4 linked regions of the Homo sapiens genome follow. Changing the gene in region 1 together with any one later gene gives a genetic interaction. Each region holds a gene or a part of one and is shown in the gene's direction. Other genes may lie near its edges.

Region 1 (3,619 bases):
TGAAGAAAATATTATCCACCAAGAAATACAGCTCGGGCATGTAAAACCCCAGCACAATGCCTGATTAAAAGCGCAGCAGGTACTGTCACTGTTACCCATCTTTCTGTTCCTTTTGGATAAAGGAGACTAATGTAATGTGGCATCCTGGCCTCTGGAGGGCGTTCAGGGGTTCGGGGGTGGGGGGGGGCGGTACTTGGAGATTCTGGGAGTGGTTGCTTGGGAGATGGTAAGACTTGGAAGTGCAGGCTGGGAGGAAAATGCAGGTGCCCAGGCCTGATGTCCTCTTACCTACCCCACCCTGCCCTGCAGTCCTGTCCAAGAACAGCAAGCCTATCCATACCACCATCCTAAACCCACACGTCCACGTGATTGGGGAGGACGCAGCGTGCATCGCCTACATCCGCCTCACCCAGTACATCGACGGGCAGGGTCGGCCTCGCACCAGCCAGTCAGAAGAGACCCGGGTCTGGCACCGTCGGGATGGCAAGTGGCTCAATGTCCACTATCACTGCTCAGGGGCCCCTGCCGCACCGCTGCAGTGAGCTCAGCCACAGGTGCACCTGGTTGACGGGGGAGAGGGGCTGGAAGGGCCTGGGATAGGTGGGGTCAGAGGAAGAAGAGAAGGCTGGGAGGTGGTCCTGGGAGAGGAGGTGTGGGCCGTCCCAGAGGACTGGCAAAGCCTGGCAGAATGGTTGCAATAAGTTATGCTTGGAAATCAGACAGACTAGGGTCTGGCTCCGTGACTCCAAATTGGATGACCTCAGACAGGTTACTTCCCCTCCCTAAACTGTTTCCTTAGCTGTCAAAGAAAGGCAGAGAGTGGTGCCTACCTCATTTAATCATTGTGAGGATTAAGTAAGATACTATAAGTAAAGCACTTAGTTAGTGCTTAGCAAATGGGAGGCAGTTTTGTATTTAAGCATTAGCTTCACCCACTTTCCCCACCTTCTCAGGCCGACTTGGCCATGTGTTTAGCGTGCTAAAGTCGCTGGAACTCATCTGTGTGCTCATTGTCCTCTGTTCTGTTACCACATTCTGTCCTGTTTGACAGGGGCTTTAGGAGATTCCAGCCGGAGGTCCAACCTTCGCAGCCAGTGGCTCTGGAGGGCCTGAGTGACAGCGGCAGTCCTGTTTGTTTGAGGTTTAAAACAATTCAATTACAAAAGCGGCAGCAGCCAATGCACGCCCCTGCATGCAGCCCTCCCGCCCGCCCTTCGTGTCTGTCTCTGCTGTACCGAGGTGTTTTTTACATTTAAGAAAAAAAAAAAAGAAAAAAAGATTGTTTAAAAAAAAAAGGAATCCATACCATGATGCGTTTTAAAACCACCGACAGCCCTTGGGTTGGCAAGAAGGCAGGAGTATGTATGAGGTCCATCCTGGCATGAGCAGTGGCTCACCCACCGGCCTTGAAGAGGTGAGCTTGGCCTCTCTGGTCCCCATGGACTTAGGGGGACCAGGCAAGAACTCTGACAGAGCTTTGGGGGCCGTGATGTGATTGCAGCTCCTGAGGTGGCCTGCTTACCCCAGGTCTAGGAATGAACTTCTTTGGAACTTGCATAGGCGCCTAGAATGGGGCTGATGAGAACATCGTGACCATCAGACCTACTTGGGAGAGAACGCAGAGCTCCCAGCCTGCTGTGGAGGCAGCTGAGAAGTGGTGGCCTCAGGACTGAGAGCCCGGACGTTGCTGTACTGTCTTGTTTAGTGTAGAAGGGAAGAGAATTGGTGCTGCAGAAGTGTACCCGCCATGAAGCCGATGAGAAACCTCGTGTTAGTCTGACATGCACTCACTCATCCATTTCTATAGGATGCACAATGCATGTGGGCCCTAATATTGAGGCCTTATCCCTGCAGCTAGGAGGGGGAGGGGTTGTTGCTGCTTTGCTTCGTGTTTTCTTCTAACCTGGCAAGGAGAGAGCCAGGCCCTGGTCAGGGCTCCCGTGCCGCCTTTGGCGGTTCTGTTTCTGTGCTGATCTGGACCATCTTTGTCTTGCCTTTTCACGGTAGTGGTCCCCATGCTGACCCTCATCTGGGCCTGGGCCCTCTGCCAAGTGCCCCTGTGGGATGGGAGGAGTGAGGCAGTGGGAGAAGAGGTGGTGGTCGTTTCTATGCATTCAGGCTGCCTTTGGGGCTGCCTCCCTTCTTATTCTTCCTTGCTGCACGTCCATCTCTTTTCCTGTCTTTGAGATTGACCTGACTGCTCTGGCAAGAAGAAGAGGTGTCCTTACAGAGGCCTCTTTACTGACCAACTGAAGTATAGACTTACTGCTGGACAATCTGCATGGGCATCACCCCTCCCCGCATGTAACCCAAAAGAGGTGTCCAGAGCCAAGGCTTCTACCTTCATTGTCCCTCTCTGTGCTCAAGGAGTTCCATTCCAGGAGGAAGAGATCTATACCCTAAGCAGATAGCAAAGAAGATAATGGAGGAGCAATTGGTCATGGCCTTGGTTTCCCTCAAAACAACGCTGCAGATTTATCTGCACAAACATCTCCACTTTTGGGGGAAAGGTGGGTAGATTCCAGTTCCCTGGACTACCTTCAGGAGGCACGAGAGCTGGGAGAAGAGGCAAAGCTACAGGTTTACTTGGGAGCCAGCTGAGAAGAGAGCAGACTCACAGGTGCTGGTGCTTGGATTTAGCCAGGCTCCTCCGAGCACCTCATGCATGTCCCAGCCCCTGGGCCCTAGCCCTTTCCTGCCCTGCAGTCTGCAGTGCCAGCACGCAAATCCCTTCACCACAGGGTTTCGTTTTGCTGGCTTGAAGACAAATGGTCTTAGAATTCATTGAGACCCATAGCTTCATATGGCTGCTCCAGCCCCACTTCTTAGCATTCTTACTCCTCTTCTGGGGCTAATGTCAGCATCTATAGACAATAGACTATTAAAAAATCACCTTTTAAACAAGAAACGGAAGGCATTTGATGCAGAATTTTTGCATGACAACATAGAAATAATTTAAAAATAGTGTTTGTTCTGAATGTTGGTAGACCCTTCATAGCTTTGTTACAATGAAACCTTGAACTGAAAATATTTAATAAAATAACCTTTAAACAGTCCATTGTGTTACTGCTGTTGGAGGTTTACGGCCAGAGGCGTAGATTTTAGCAGCCTGGCTTACCAGGTTGGAGAGAGTACCTCCTCCTACTCCCTTTGGGTACTTTTGAGAATAAAACTTCCTCATGCCTGTAATCCCAGTACTTTGGGAGGCCGACGCGGGCGAATCACGAGGTCAGGAGTTCGAGACCAGCCTGGCTAATATGGTGAAACCCCGTCTCTACTAAAAAATACAAAAAATTTAGCTGGGCATAGTGGCGGGCGCCTGTAATCCCAGCTGCTCGGAAGGCTGAGGCAGGAGAATCGCTTGAACCTGGGAGGGGGAGGTTGCAGTGAGCCGAGGTCGCGCCACTGCACTCCAGCCCAGGCGACAGAGTGAGACTCCGTCTCAAAAAAAAAAAAAAAAAAAAAAAAAAAAAAAAAAAACTTCTCATAAACAGCCTCCAAACAGCGCTCGGTGCTGCGCAGGCGACGCGGGGCGGGGAGGGAGGGTGAGTGCCCTGGGAGCCGGCTGAGGGCCTCGCCCCGCCCCTGGTCCCGCCTCCGGTTAGGCCGCTCCGCCTCT
Region 2 (3,564 bases), about 54 Mb from region 1:
TTCATAGGTCTGCGGTGCAGACTGGTTTGCTGTCCACAGGCTTGGCCCTGACTCCTCGGCTAACATGCACAAGGGCGCTCTGAGGGTCGGGAACGCACCCACCAAGCACAGCCCAGACGAAATGGAAGCTCCTGTCCAGGCAGGTTCCCGGTGAAACTCTAGGGAGCTCCAGCCTTCCTTTCTTCTCCAGTTTATTAAGAGGCTGGCCTCAGAGGTGGACACCTACTTCCACAATTTGATGTCCGACCCTGGGACTCTCCTCTTTACCCTGCCCCCACCTCATCCACCAGCCTTTTGGTCTGAAATCCTTGTCATGGGGTAAAGCTTTTTATTCTGTTGTTGGAAACACAGTATATGGTTTGGCTGTGTGTCCCCTCCAAATCTCATGTTGAAATGTGGTCCCCAGCGTTGGAGGTAGGGCCTGGTAGGAGGTATTGGATCATGGGGGCAGGTACCTCATGATTACTAGCGCCATCCCTTTAGTGATGAGTGAGTTCTTGCTCAGCTAGTTCACATGATATCTGGTCATTTTAAAGAATGTGGCACCCCCCACCCACTCTCTCTCTTGTTCCCACTCTCACTGTGTGGCATGCTGGCTCCCTCCCTCTGCCTTGATTGGAAGCTTCCTGAGCCTCACCTGAAGCAGGTGCCAGCATTATGCTTTGTGCACAGCCTGCAGAACCATCAGCCAATTAAACCTCATTTCCTTATAAATTACCCAGCGTCAGGTATTCCTTTATTGCAATGCAAGAACAGACTGACACACACAGCACAGGTGGAAATACAGGCTTTGCGGACACCGGTGGCCTGTTTTTCTGACACTATCATACTTCCCAGGATAGGCTCTACTCTTAACTCTTCTAACCCCATCCACTTGTTATAAAACACACTTTCAGAAAAAGGCTAGGTTGTTACTGAGGTAACATGGGATGGATCTTTGGAGGTGGGAAGGCCTCCAGCCTCCTCTGGGGAAGACAAAGTAAATCCTCCCTATGGAATTCTCCAGCTTGTTTTCTTGATTCCAGAGAGACCTGCTAGTGAATTCAACTAACAGGTTGGTTTTCAGCACAGAATATTTCCTACAGATGTCGGTGTTTCTTTCCAAATCCTTCCTCTCTTCAGGGCGCTTTCCCACTGTTCTAGACGTAGGAGAGAAAGCACTTCTCAGATGGTGAGCTTTTATCTTCCAATCTTGTCAACCGAGGAGACCTGGAAGTTCCCTTTCAACCTGGAATGTGAGCCCTGCTTGCTGGGCACGAGATAAGGACCAAGGATTGACCCAGGACAATTTCAGAGAGCACAGGGGTGGCATATCCTCATGTCAGGGCGTGGAGCTAATATTCAGACCCAAACACTCTGAATCTCTGAAGCAGAAGCTCTCTTAAAATTCCTGGGGAGGAAATCAGTATGAATTAATAAAAAGCCTGAATATTGTGGATTTTTATTAAATTCGAGGATTTATAGTAACTCAATCCAGGCCAACAAAACGTTGCCTTCCGGTACTTACTTTAATGAATAGAAAGCATGTAAATGCTCTTCCAAAGAGAATAACACATTTTAGCATCTTAAATATGTAAAAATAAAACTCCTGTACAATCCTAGTTGCACTAGGAAGTCTACTTATCAAAAAAAGAAACTTCTGTTTCCAGCCACATTATTTCAAATCATCCCAAAACTTACATTGTTACTAGTAAAATTTTTCATTGTGATTAACACTTTTTTTCCAGTATGGTTTTCCTCTTTCTGAAAGCAACCTTAGTTTCATAAACAGTTGGACATTTAAGTACTGGTCAAAAAAGTACTCTGAACCAGTAACCTCGTCCTTAATTTTGAACTGCTGTTGACTAAGCGCTCTCTTTTCCTAAGCTCATAGCAGCCCTTCGTTCAGTGCTTCAGTAATTCAATAAATTACTTTTTGCCAAGGTTGCAAACATCAGCTAAAGTTCAGTCATCTACTGGAGATGTTATCAGTCTGTCCATTTAAATTCTTTTGCGCAAAGTCCAGATTTGGACCCAAAGTAATATAAAAATGCAAGAGCCAGAAATTTAATAATTTTGTACTGTGTTGTGCCAAGCCAGGCCTATTCTTAGCTAGCCAACAACATTCTTTCAAAGGATATTTTTTGGTTTTCATCAAATGTAAATAGTGTTTAAGAGTCTGTAATATCATTTAGAAGGAACAAATGGAAGTATTAAACCTTTATTGACTACCTACAGTATATAGAGGATCTATAACTTATGATGGTTTTATTATAGTTTCTCAACCTTACAATGGGTTTATTGGGCATTGGGTACATTTTAAACTTATGATATATTCTATTTACAAGGGGTTCATCAGGATATGACCTCACTGTAAGCCCAGGAGCATCCGTACGTACAAGCACTGTGCTTAGCGCTGGAGTTACAGGGAAAAAAAAAAAAAAAGGCACGATGGCTTGTGACATCCTGTGGATGCTCCAGGTCCACAGGAAGACAGAACTCACTTCCAGGGAGTGTTAAATGTGATGCTGGATGCTCCTGTGGAGGAGGGGAGACATGGAAGGGCCTCCCCAGGTAGAGCAGTGACGTGGTCTGGCTCTGTGTCCCCACCCAAATCTCATCTTGAATTGTAATCCAAATAGTAATCCCCACATGTTGGGGGAGGGACCTTGTAGGAGGTGATTAGATCATGAGGGTGGTTTCCCCCATGCTGTTCTCATGATAGTGAGTGAGTTCTCATGAGATCTGATGGTTTTATAAGGGGCTCTTCCCCCTTCACTTCACTGTGCACTTCACTGTGCACTTCTCCTTCCTGTCGCCTTGTGAAGAAGGTGCCTTGCTTCCCCTTCCACCATGATTGTCAGTTTCCTGAGGCCTCCCCAGCCATGCTGAACTGTGAGTCAATTAAACCTCTTTCCTTTATAAATTACCCAGTCTTAGGCAGTTCTTTATAGCAGTATGAAAACAGACTAATACAAGCAGGCTTGGTTTACTGGGCCATTTCCTAGGCAGCTGACAGGGATTGAGCATTCCAGACAGAGGGGCTACCATGTGCTTGCCTGGCAGTAGGAAGCGGTGTGTCCTGTCTGGGGAAGAGCAGGTGTCTGCATGGAGCTGGAGCCCAGGGACAGAGGGGATGGGACAAAAAGGTGGAAAGTTTAAGGATCACCCAAACATTTGTACACCATCCAGGAGTCTGGATTCTGTGTGACGGACCAGCAGTTCTTACCGTGTCTTAAATTATGACCCCCTTTGTGATTCTAGGGAAGACTATGGACTCATTCTCCAGAAAAACGCATGTGTGCACACAGTCATTTGTATAGTTTCAGCAAGTCTTTCCTAACACCCCTCCCCCCATCCTGAGGCTCACAGGTTCCAGGTGTGTCCCCTTTGTGCGGCCTGGCCAGCCCCACAGAGCCCAGCAGCATGCTCAGCTGTGAGTTTGAGAAGGGGTCCCCTGCTGGCTGTGTGTGGAAAGCCAGAATGGAGGTGACGGGGGAAACCGACTCAGCAGGTTGGATTTATAGGCAACATGACCATGTGGGTGAGAGGATGAGAGTGAGAACCAAGGCCCCGCAGTTTTCG
Region 3 (3,564 bases), on another chromosome or scaffold:
ACTCAGGAGGCTGAGGCAGGAGAATCTCTTGAACCCGGGAGGCGGAGGTTGCGATGAAGGGAGATCGCACCACTACACTCCACCTTGGATGACAGAGTGAGACTCTGTCTCAAAAAAATAAAATAAAATAAAATAAAGAGTTCAGAGGAGGATCTGCAAGGAATGGGAAAGGTGAGTCTGGGAGGCAATGGACCGCCCTCAGTAGGTGTGAGCAGACAAGGGCCACATTCAGATCTAGAGTTCCAGAGAGTTCCAAAGATCCCCTGGGAGATGCTCAGGAGGAGATGAAACCATGACCCAGGCCGGGCATGTTGGCTCACGCCTGTAATCCCAGCACTTTTGGAGGCCGAGACAGGCAGATCACTTGAGGTTAGAAGTTCGAAACCAACCTGGCCAACATGGTGAAACCCCCCTCCACTAAAAATACAAAAATTACCTAGGCCTGGTGATGCATGCCTGTAATCCCAGCTACTCGGGAGGCTGAGGCAGGAGAATAGCTTGAACCCGGGAGGTGGAGGTTGCAGTGAGCAGAGATCGCGCCATTGCACTCCAGCCTGGGTGACAGAGAGAGACTCCATCTCAAAAAAAAAAAAAACAAAAAAAAAAAACCAAAACAAGGCTGGGCGCGGTGGCTTACGCCTATAATCTCAGCACTTTTGGAGGCTGAGGCAGGGGTATCACCTGAGGTCATGAGTTGAAGACCATCCTGACCAACATGGAAAAACCCCGTCCCTACTGAAAAATACAAAATTAGCCGGGTGTGGTGGTGCATGCCTGTAATCCCAGCTACTCGGGAGGCTGAGGCAGGAGAATAGCTTAAACCTGGGAGGCGGAGGTTGCGGTGAGCTGAGATGGCGCCATTGCACTCCAGCCTGGGCAACAAGAGAGAAACTCCGTCTCAAACAAAAATAAAAACAAAACAAAACAAACCCACAAAAACAAAAACAAAAACTGTAATCCAGCGGGAACTAATCATGTTGGTGATAATAATAATGACAGCTCTGGTCTCCCATGTCCCAAGCGTCCACTCTGTGCCTCATGCTGTTCCCTTCACCAGCAGTTAGTTCTCCATCTAATCTTTCTTCTGAGAAAGGCAGGGCAGTCACGGCTCCAACTTTACAGATGAGGAAATTGAGGCTCGGGGGGAAGTCACTGCCTGAGGTCAATGGGCAAGTCGGGGGGCGGTGCCAGGACCCATGCCTAGGTCACACCCCAAGTAGAGTTCTGACCATGGGGTTCAGAGTTAGCAGAGGGTACGGGGGACCACCCCATCTGCAGTCCTCCCTGGAGGTCAGATCCGGGACTGCTGGACTGTGTAACTTCAGGGAGGGACTGTACTCTCTGCCTCACAGTCTTCATCAATAAAATGAGGATGACACGGGTCCCTGCTTCACAGGGATCCCAGGGCTCAGAACACAGTGGGGCTCAGGGACAATTCTCAGGTTCATGCAGTTGATCAACAAATGCACATTATAGCCTGAGGAACATAGGGAGACCCCATCTTTACACAATTTTTTTTTTTTTGAGCCAGAGTCTCACTCTGTTGCCCAGGCTGGAGTGCAGTGGCGCAACCTCAGCTCACTGCAACCTCTGGCTCCCAGGATCAAGCCATTCTCTTGCCTCAGCCCCCGAGTAGCTGGGATGACAGGCATGCGCCACCATGCCCAGCTAATTTTTTTGTATTTTTTGTAGGGGTGGGGTTTTGCCATGTTGGCCAGGCTGGTCTCAAACTCCTGACCTCAGGTGATCCACCTGCCTCAGCCTCTGAATGTGCTGGGATTACAGGCATGAGCCACTGTGCCCGGCCTTTCTTTCTTTTCTTTCTTTTTTTTTTTTTTTGAGACAGAGTTTGGCTCTGTTGTGCAGGCTGGAGTGCAACGGCGCGATCTCCGCTCGCTGCAACCTCTACCTCTCAGATTCAGGCAATTCCTCTGCCTCAGCCTCCCAAGTAGCTGGGACTCCAGGTGCCAACCACCACACCCAGCTAATTTATGTATTTTGGGTAGAGATGAGGTTTCACCATGTTGGCCAGGCTGGTCTTGAACTTCTGAGCTCAAGTGATCCACCCGCCTCGGCCTCCCGAAGTGTTGGGATTACACGCGTGAGTCACCCTGCCCGGCCAGACCCCTATCTTTACACAAAAATTTAAAAAAATTAGCCAGGCATGGTGGCGCACACCTGTGGTCTCAGCTACTGGGGGACTGAAGCAGGAAGATCGCTTGAGCCCAGGAGTTCTAGGCTGCAGTGAGCCACATTCATGGGACTGCACTCCCGCCTGGGCAACAGAGCAAGATCTTTTCTCAAAACAAAACAAAACAAAACAAAACCACAGACAAAAACTAAATGCATATTAAATGCCGACTCTGAGCCCTGTCCGTCTTGGGTGCTGGGGACGTGCAGCATCAGGACAGATAGATGCCCCGGTCCTCGGGGTGCAGCTGTCTGGGAGGCTGACCCCCAGTTCTCCCCAGTACATGCCTCTGCTGGTGCTGGACATCTTCGAAGATCTGCCTGGAGTCCCCGGGCTTTTCCTGGCCTGTGCTTACAGTGGCACCCTCAGGTGAGCACCCCTGCTTGTTCATGGAGCATTATTTCAGCCCCTGGGAGCCTCCTTATCCTGGCCTGCCATCCCTCTGGGGCATGGAATGTTCTGGACCTGTCCATCAGTCCCAGTTCCTGCTTGATCCCTAGAAGACAGCTCAGGTAGGCGCTGGCAGAGAGCATGCCCTGGGCACAGGGACCCCAACTGCAAGGGTTTACCTTCTTATCACCTGTCAGGGCCACGCCTGACTCTCCTCTCTTCTTCTTCCTTCTTTCCTTCCTTCCTCCCCAGACAAATATTTGTTGAACATCTACTATGTGGCAGGTACTGTTTTTTTTTGTTTTTTTTCCGGATGGAGTCTTGCTCTGTCACCCAGGCTGGAGTGCAGTGGTGCCATCTCGGCTCACTGCAACCTCCACCTCCTGGGTTCAAGCAATTCTCCTGCCTCAGCCTCCCAAGTAGCTGGGATTACAGGTCCACGCCACCACAGCCGGCTAATTTTTGTATTTTTAGTAGAGACGGGGTTTCGCCATGTTGGCCAGGCTGGTCTTGAACTCCTGACCTCAGGTGATCTGCATGCTTTGGCCTCGCAAAGTGCTGAGATTGCAGGCATGAGCCAACGTGCTCAGCCCAGGTACTGTTGTTCTAAACCCTGGGGCACAGCCATGACCAAGCAGTCCCCTGCTTCTGCCTTCCAAGGCCACACACTCAGGTGGTTTCCACTCTTCCGGGACTTCTGGTCACATGCCCTCACTGTCCCTTTTGCAAATCTCCCACATGTGACTGCAGTCCCTCTGGAACCAGAACCCACCTGTCTGTCCCACCTGCCCTTGGTCACAGGTGTCCTTGCTCCTGTAGGGATGTCTCAGGTCTTCGGGGAGGGGAGGGGCAAATATCTCCTTCACCTTTGCAGGACTGGGTTACCCCCACCGTTGCCCTCAGGCTGGGTGAGGTCTGGCAGGCCAGATGGTGTGGACGGTCTCTCCATATGGCCTGAGGACCCCCCGCTGCCTTCCTCACAC
Region 4 (4,168 bases), on another chromosome or scaffold:
GCAAGAACATTGTTAGGGACGGCCTGCTCTTGGCCTCTGTGCCCCAGGGATTGCAAATGCATGTTCCTCAAAGGTAAGGGCTGTATCATTCGGCTTTCTTTGTATTCACAGGTACAGCTTGTGCTAGGCAGCCGGTGTTCAATAAATATCGTGCCTAAGGATAAAGTGGCATTGTCCTTAATTTCCCCCACCAAACCACTAGGTGTCGCCTTCATCTCAGGGAAACCATGCCCGTCCTCGCCCTATACACTCCCACCCCACTCCAGGGCTCCAGGAGCGCTCTTAGCTTGTGATTTCTGGAGAAATAGCTTGAAGGGGGGAGAGAAACCGTGGCTCTTAGCGCGGGCAGAGAATGGGCTTATGTGCATGTCCTTTATGACAGTTGGAGAAAAATCCCCAAGGTCCCATAGCAGTCCCTCTCAGCCACCATGAGATCATCCCTCACAAGCTGTTCTTGGGGTCAGATTGGCACTCCAGATATGAGGGCCCTAGGGAGAGCTTCCTAAGGGAAGCTGGGAGCAAGGTGGAACCCCAGGAGAGCGTGGATGGGCTTCCACTGCGGGGAGTGTCCCGCCGGTCCGTTACAGGCTTTCCCCAGGCGCCAGCCTGCGCTGTGCAGGAGACAAAAGAAAATCGAGGCCCTGACTGAGCAGATGGTGCGGAGGAAGCCGGGCGGGCTGCGGTGGGCCTCTGAGGACACGAGGAGGGCAGGGGGCATGGAGACAGCGGGGGGCCGAGAGTTGAGTCCCAAGCAAGAAGGAGCCTCGTGGACTTTCTAAGGACTGGTGGGAAGTGTACAGCAGGGGCCCCTGGCTGCTGGAGGGGCCCGTCCAGGGAGCGGGCATGGTCCGCGGTGGAGTAAGCCGCACTGCCGTCGGGAGGGCGCTATGGTTTGCTAGGTGAGGGGGCTGGTGAGGATACCACACGTCTGGGGATCCTCGACTGCTTCCTGGAGACTGGAACCACTGAGGGACTCAGGGAGTTCAGAGGGGAGACCCAAGAAGAACGGGCTGAGCGAGGGGGAGAGGACAAACCCTGGGGTCGCTGGCGTGTGTGAGATGGAAATGGAAGGAGGGGCGGCAGGGGGACCAGGGGCGTGGGGGAGACCAGGGTAGGCCCTGAGAGTGAGGGAGCGCCCGGGAACCCTGCTGGCCGGCGAGGCCTTGGTGCGGAGCCCCCAAGTGCTCACCGGGGTGGGTTTGGGACCTGGCGGTCCCGAGCGCCCGGGTGGGGGGTGGGGGAAGGCAGCCGGCGCCGGAGGGTGGGGCCGGGAGGGAGGAGGAGAGGCAGCGGGGGAGGGGCGGGGGCGGGCGGCCTGCCCGGGGGAGTCGCACTCGGCCGCCGGCGCAGCGAGCGGAGACGGGCCGGGCCGAGGCGACCTGACCCGGACGAGCGGCGCGCGCGGGGCCCAGGCGGGGGGCGGGAGGAAGCGCCGGGCAGCGCCGGCCGCCAGGGCCCAGGAGAAGCGGAGCAGAGAGGAGCGGGGACACGGGCGGGGCCGCCGTAGCTCCGGATGGGACCAGCGCCCGGGCCCGTTAGTCCAAGCAGGAGCTCCGGGAGAATCCTTCACAGGGAGATTTACCCCTGCCTTCCCCTGCCCTCCGGCCCAGGCCTCGCTTCGCTCCCCGCCTGCCCATGATCCCAGTCCTTCCGCGGCGCGGGCACCCTCCCACCTTACCCCCTTGGTCCTATGTGGCGCAGCGCCCTCCTGCCCTCCCGGCCCTTTCAGCTGTGAGGTTCCCCCAGGCCGTTTCTTTGTACCACCCGCCCCCCACCCCCACCCCATCCCAGTCCCAGATCCCCTTTTCCTTCTCAGCTTTAGATTTATCAGGCTTCTTCACCTCGCACTGTCCCCATCCTGGCCGCAGGCCCCCTCGGTCCCTCCCTCCCCCTGCCACCCCGTTCTCAGTCCTCAGTCCTTGCCCTAGGCTGGTAGCCCACTCCTTGCCCGCCCCCCGCCTTCCTCCCATCTCCCCCTCCTCTCCCCGGCCCCCAGCACCTTCTGCATCCCAGCCTACCTAGCCTACTCCTCCTCTTCCTGGCCCTCTTCCCCAGGCTCCAGGCTGGGGGGTGCTCGCGTCTCCCCTGTAGGCCAGAGCAGCCCCAAGTTCTGGGGGCGGTGGGGCTGCTGCTTTATCCCCATGGCGCTGCCATCACTTCTGCTGTTGGTGGCAGCCCTGGCAGGTGGGGTGCGTCCTCCCGGGGCGCGGAACCTGACGCTGGCGGTGGTGCTGCCAGAACACAACCTGAGCTATGCCTGGGCCTGGCCACGGGTGGGACCCGCTGTGGCACTAGCTGTGGAGGCTCTGGGCCGGGCACTGCCCGTGGACCTGCGGTTTGTCAGCTCCGAACTGGAAGGCGCCTGCTCTGAGTACCTGGCACCGCTGAGCGCTGTGGACCTCAAGCTGTACCATGACCCCGACCTGCTGTTAGGTCCCGGTTGCGTGTACCCTGCTGCCTCTGTGGCCCGCTTTGCCTCCCACTGGCGCCTTCCCCTGCTGACTGCGGGTGCTGTGGCCTCTGGTTTTTCGGCTAAGAATGACCATTATCGTACCCTGGTTCGCACTGGCCCCTCTGCTCCCAAGCTGGGTGAGTTTGTGGTGACACTACACGGGCACTTCAATTGGACTGCCCGTGCTGCCTTGCTGTACCTGGATGCTCGCACAGATGACCGGCCTCACTACTTCACCATCGAGGGCGTCTTTGAGGCCCTGCAGGGCAGCAACCTCAGTGTGCAGCACCAGGTGTATGCCCGAGAGCCAGGGGGCCCCGAGCAGGCCACCCACTTCATCCGGGCCAACGGGCGCAGTGAGTGTGGCCTGGGCTATTTTAGGGTCATGGGAGGAGGGTCGCTGTGTCCCTAAAGCTCAGCACTGGGGAACTGTAGATGGAGATAGGCATTGAGCAGCTGTATGTGGTGGTTGGGATCAAGAAGCACACGTGGACAGAGCACCTGTGAGAGGGCCAAGGCTTCATCATGGGAGCTTGTGAACACCCTAGGCAGATGCAAACAAGGAAGAAGAGAGCATGAGGGGTGAAGCCTTGTATCAAGGTGGAATGTGAAAATGAGGGGATATTAAGTTTCGGGAGCAATGTTTGTGCCCTAGAGTAGTGAATGTGATTGATAGCCACTCTGAAATGTGCCCTGTCTGTGATCAGAGCTACCACCCAGACTGGGCGCCAAGACCCCTTGGTGGTGTAAAAATAATGAGGGCTCCATGAACGGACTCAGGGCTCAGCAGATTTGGGAAAGACAGATAAAGCTCATACTGAGAAATCTGTGCTGTCTGTGCCTTTGAGCCCAGGGAAGGGCAGGGAAGAGTCAGGGAGCAGGCCGGTTGGGTGGGGAGCAGCAAGGGAGGCTCTGGGAAAGGGAGGGGCTTGAGAGTGACAGCTCCCTTCCTCTGGGGTCTGGACAGGCTCTGACTTCTGCCAGATGGTCCATATGGCCCCAGGGTACTTATGGTGGACTCCAAGAGGGGTGGGCTGGGGAGCATCTGCTTTGGGGTTGATAGGTTAGGGCACTCTCTTTCTTGCTGAAGAGGGACATCCCAGTGATTCAGAGAGGGGGCTGTGTGGGGGACCTGGATACCTTCTCAGGGTGCTCCTCTGTCATGTACCTGCTCCCAGTTGTGTATATCTGCGGCCCTCTGGAGATGCTGCATGAGATCCTGCTTCAGGCCCAGAGGGAGAATCTGACCAATGGGGATTATGTCTTCTTTTACCTGGATGTCTTTGGGGAGAGTCTCCGTGCAGGCCCCACACGTGCTACAGGCCGGCCCTGGCAGGACAATCGCACCCGGGAACAGGCCCAGGCCCTCAGAGAGGCCTTTCAGGTATCATTTGAGCCAAATCTGAAGGAGGAGGGGGAAGAGGTGCTTCGCTGGAAATTCTCTCTCACAAGACCCTAAAGAAACCCTAGGAACCAGGCAGGAATTGTGAGCCACAGGAGTAAAATGAACAGAGGCATTCTGAGTCTAGTGTCACCCTTTCTTACTTCTCTACTTTTGTGACTCTTAGTGTGCTTGCTGCCAAGACTGACTTTGGCTGCCTCCAAAATCCTAAAACACTGACTTTCCTAAGTGCCAGTAGTAGGCTATATTGTGGGGGAGAAAAGTTCAGGAAGAGATCTGATCCTAGCCCTTGGGTGGGCTTCCACCCTTTATGG

The links.
Region 2: changes in CAMK2G (region 1) and PTPRE together harm fitness more than expected from each alone (negative genetic interaction), as found in Homo sapiens cells (one large-scale study listed by BioGRID).
Region 3: changes in CAMK2G (region 1) and SLC5A5 together harm fitness more than expected from each alone (negative genetic interaction), as found in Homo sapiens cells (one large-scale study listed by BioGRID).
Region 4: changes in CAMK2G (region 1) and NPR2 together harm fitness more than expected from each alone (negative genetic interaction), as found in Homo sapiens cells (one large-scale study listed by BioGRID).

What each region holds. Positions count from the first base shown.
Region 1 is NC_000010.11:73,811,938-73,815,556, reverse strand, and holds the end of CAMK2G (calcium/calmodulin-dependent protein kinase type II subunit gamma), read left to right. Parts: intron 1-309; coding exon 310-542; 3' UTR 543-554; intron 555-1,051; coding exon of another isoform or gene 1,052-1,113; 3' UTR 1,114-3,056; downstream 3,057-3,619.
Region 2 is NC_000010.11:127,913,587-127,917,150, forward strand, and holds part of PTPRE (receptor-type tyrosine-protein phosphatase epsilon isoform 1 precursor), read left to right. Parts: intron 1-3,564. UniProt on the Homo sapiens protein: Isoform 1 plays a critical role in signaling transduction pathways and phosphoprotein network topology in red blood cells. May play a role in osteoclast formation and function.
Region 3 is NC_000019.10:17,878,394-17,881,957, forward strand, and holds part of SLC5A5 (sodium/iodide cotransporter), read left to right. Parts: intron 1-2,438; coding exon of another isoform or gene 2,439-2,471; coding exon 2,472-2,560; intron 2,561-3,564. UniProt on the Homo sapiens protein: Sodium:iodide symporter that mediates the transport of iodide into the thyroid gland. Can also mediate the transport of chlorate, thiocynate, nitrate and selenocynate.
Region 4 is NC_000009.12:35,790,268-35,794,435, forward strand, and holds the start of NPR2 (atrial natriuretic peptide receptor 2 isoform 1 precursor), read left to right. Parts: upstream 1-1,323; 5' UTR 1,324-2,141; coding exon 2,142-2,808; intron 2,809-3,630; coding exon 3,631-3,836; intron 3,837-4,168. UniProt on the Homo sapiens protein: Receptor for the C-type natriuretic peptide NPPC/CNP hormone. Has guanylate cyclase activity upon binding of its ligand. May play a role in the regulation of skeletal growth.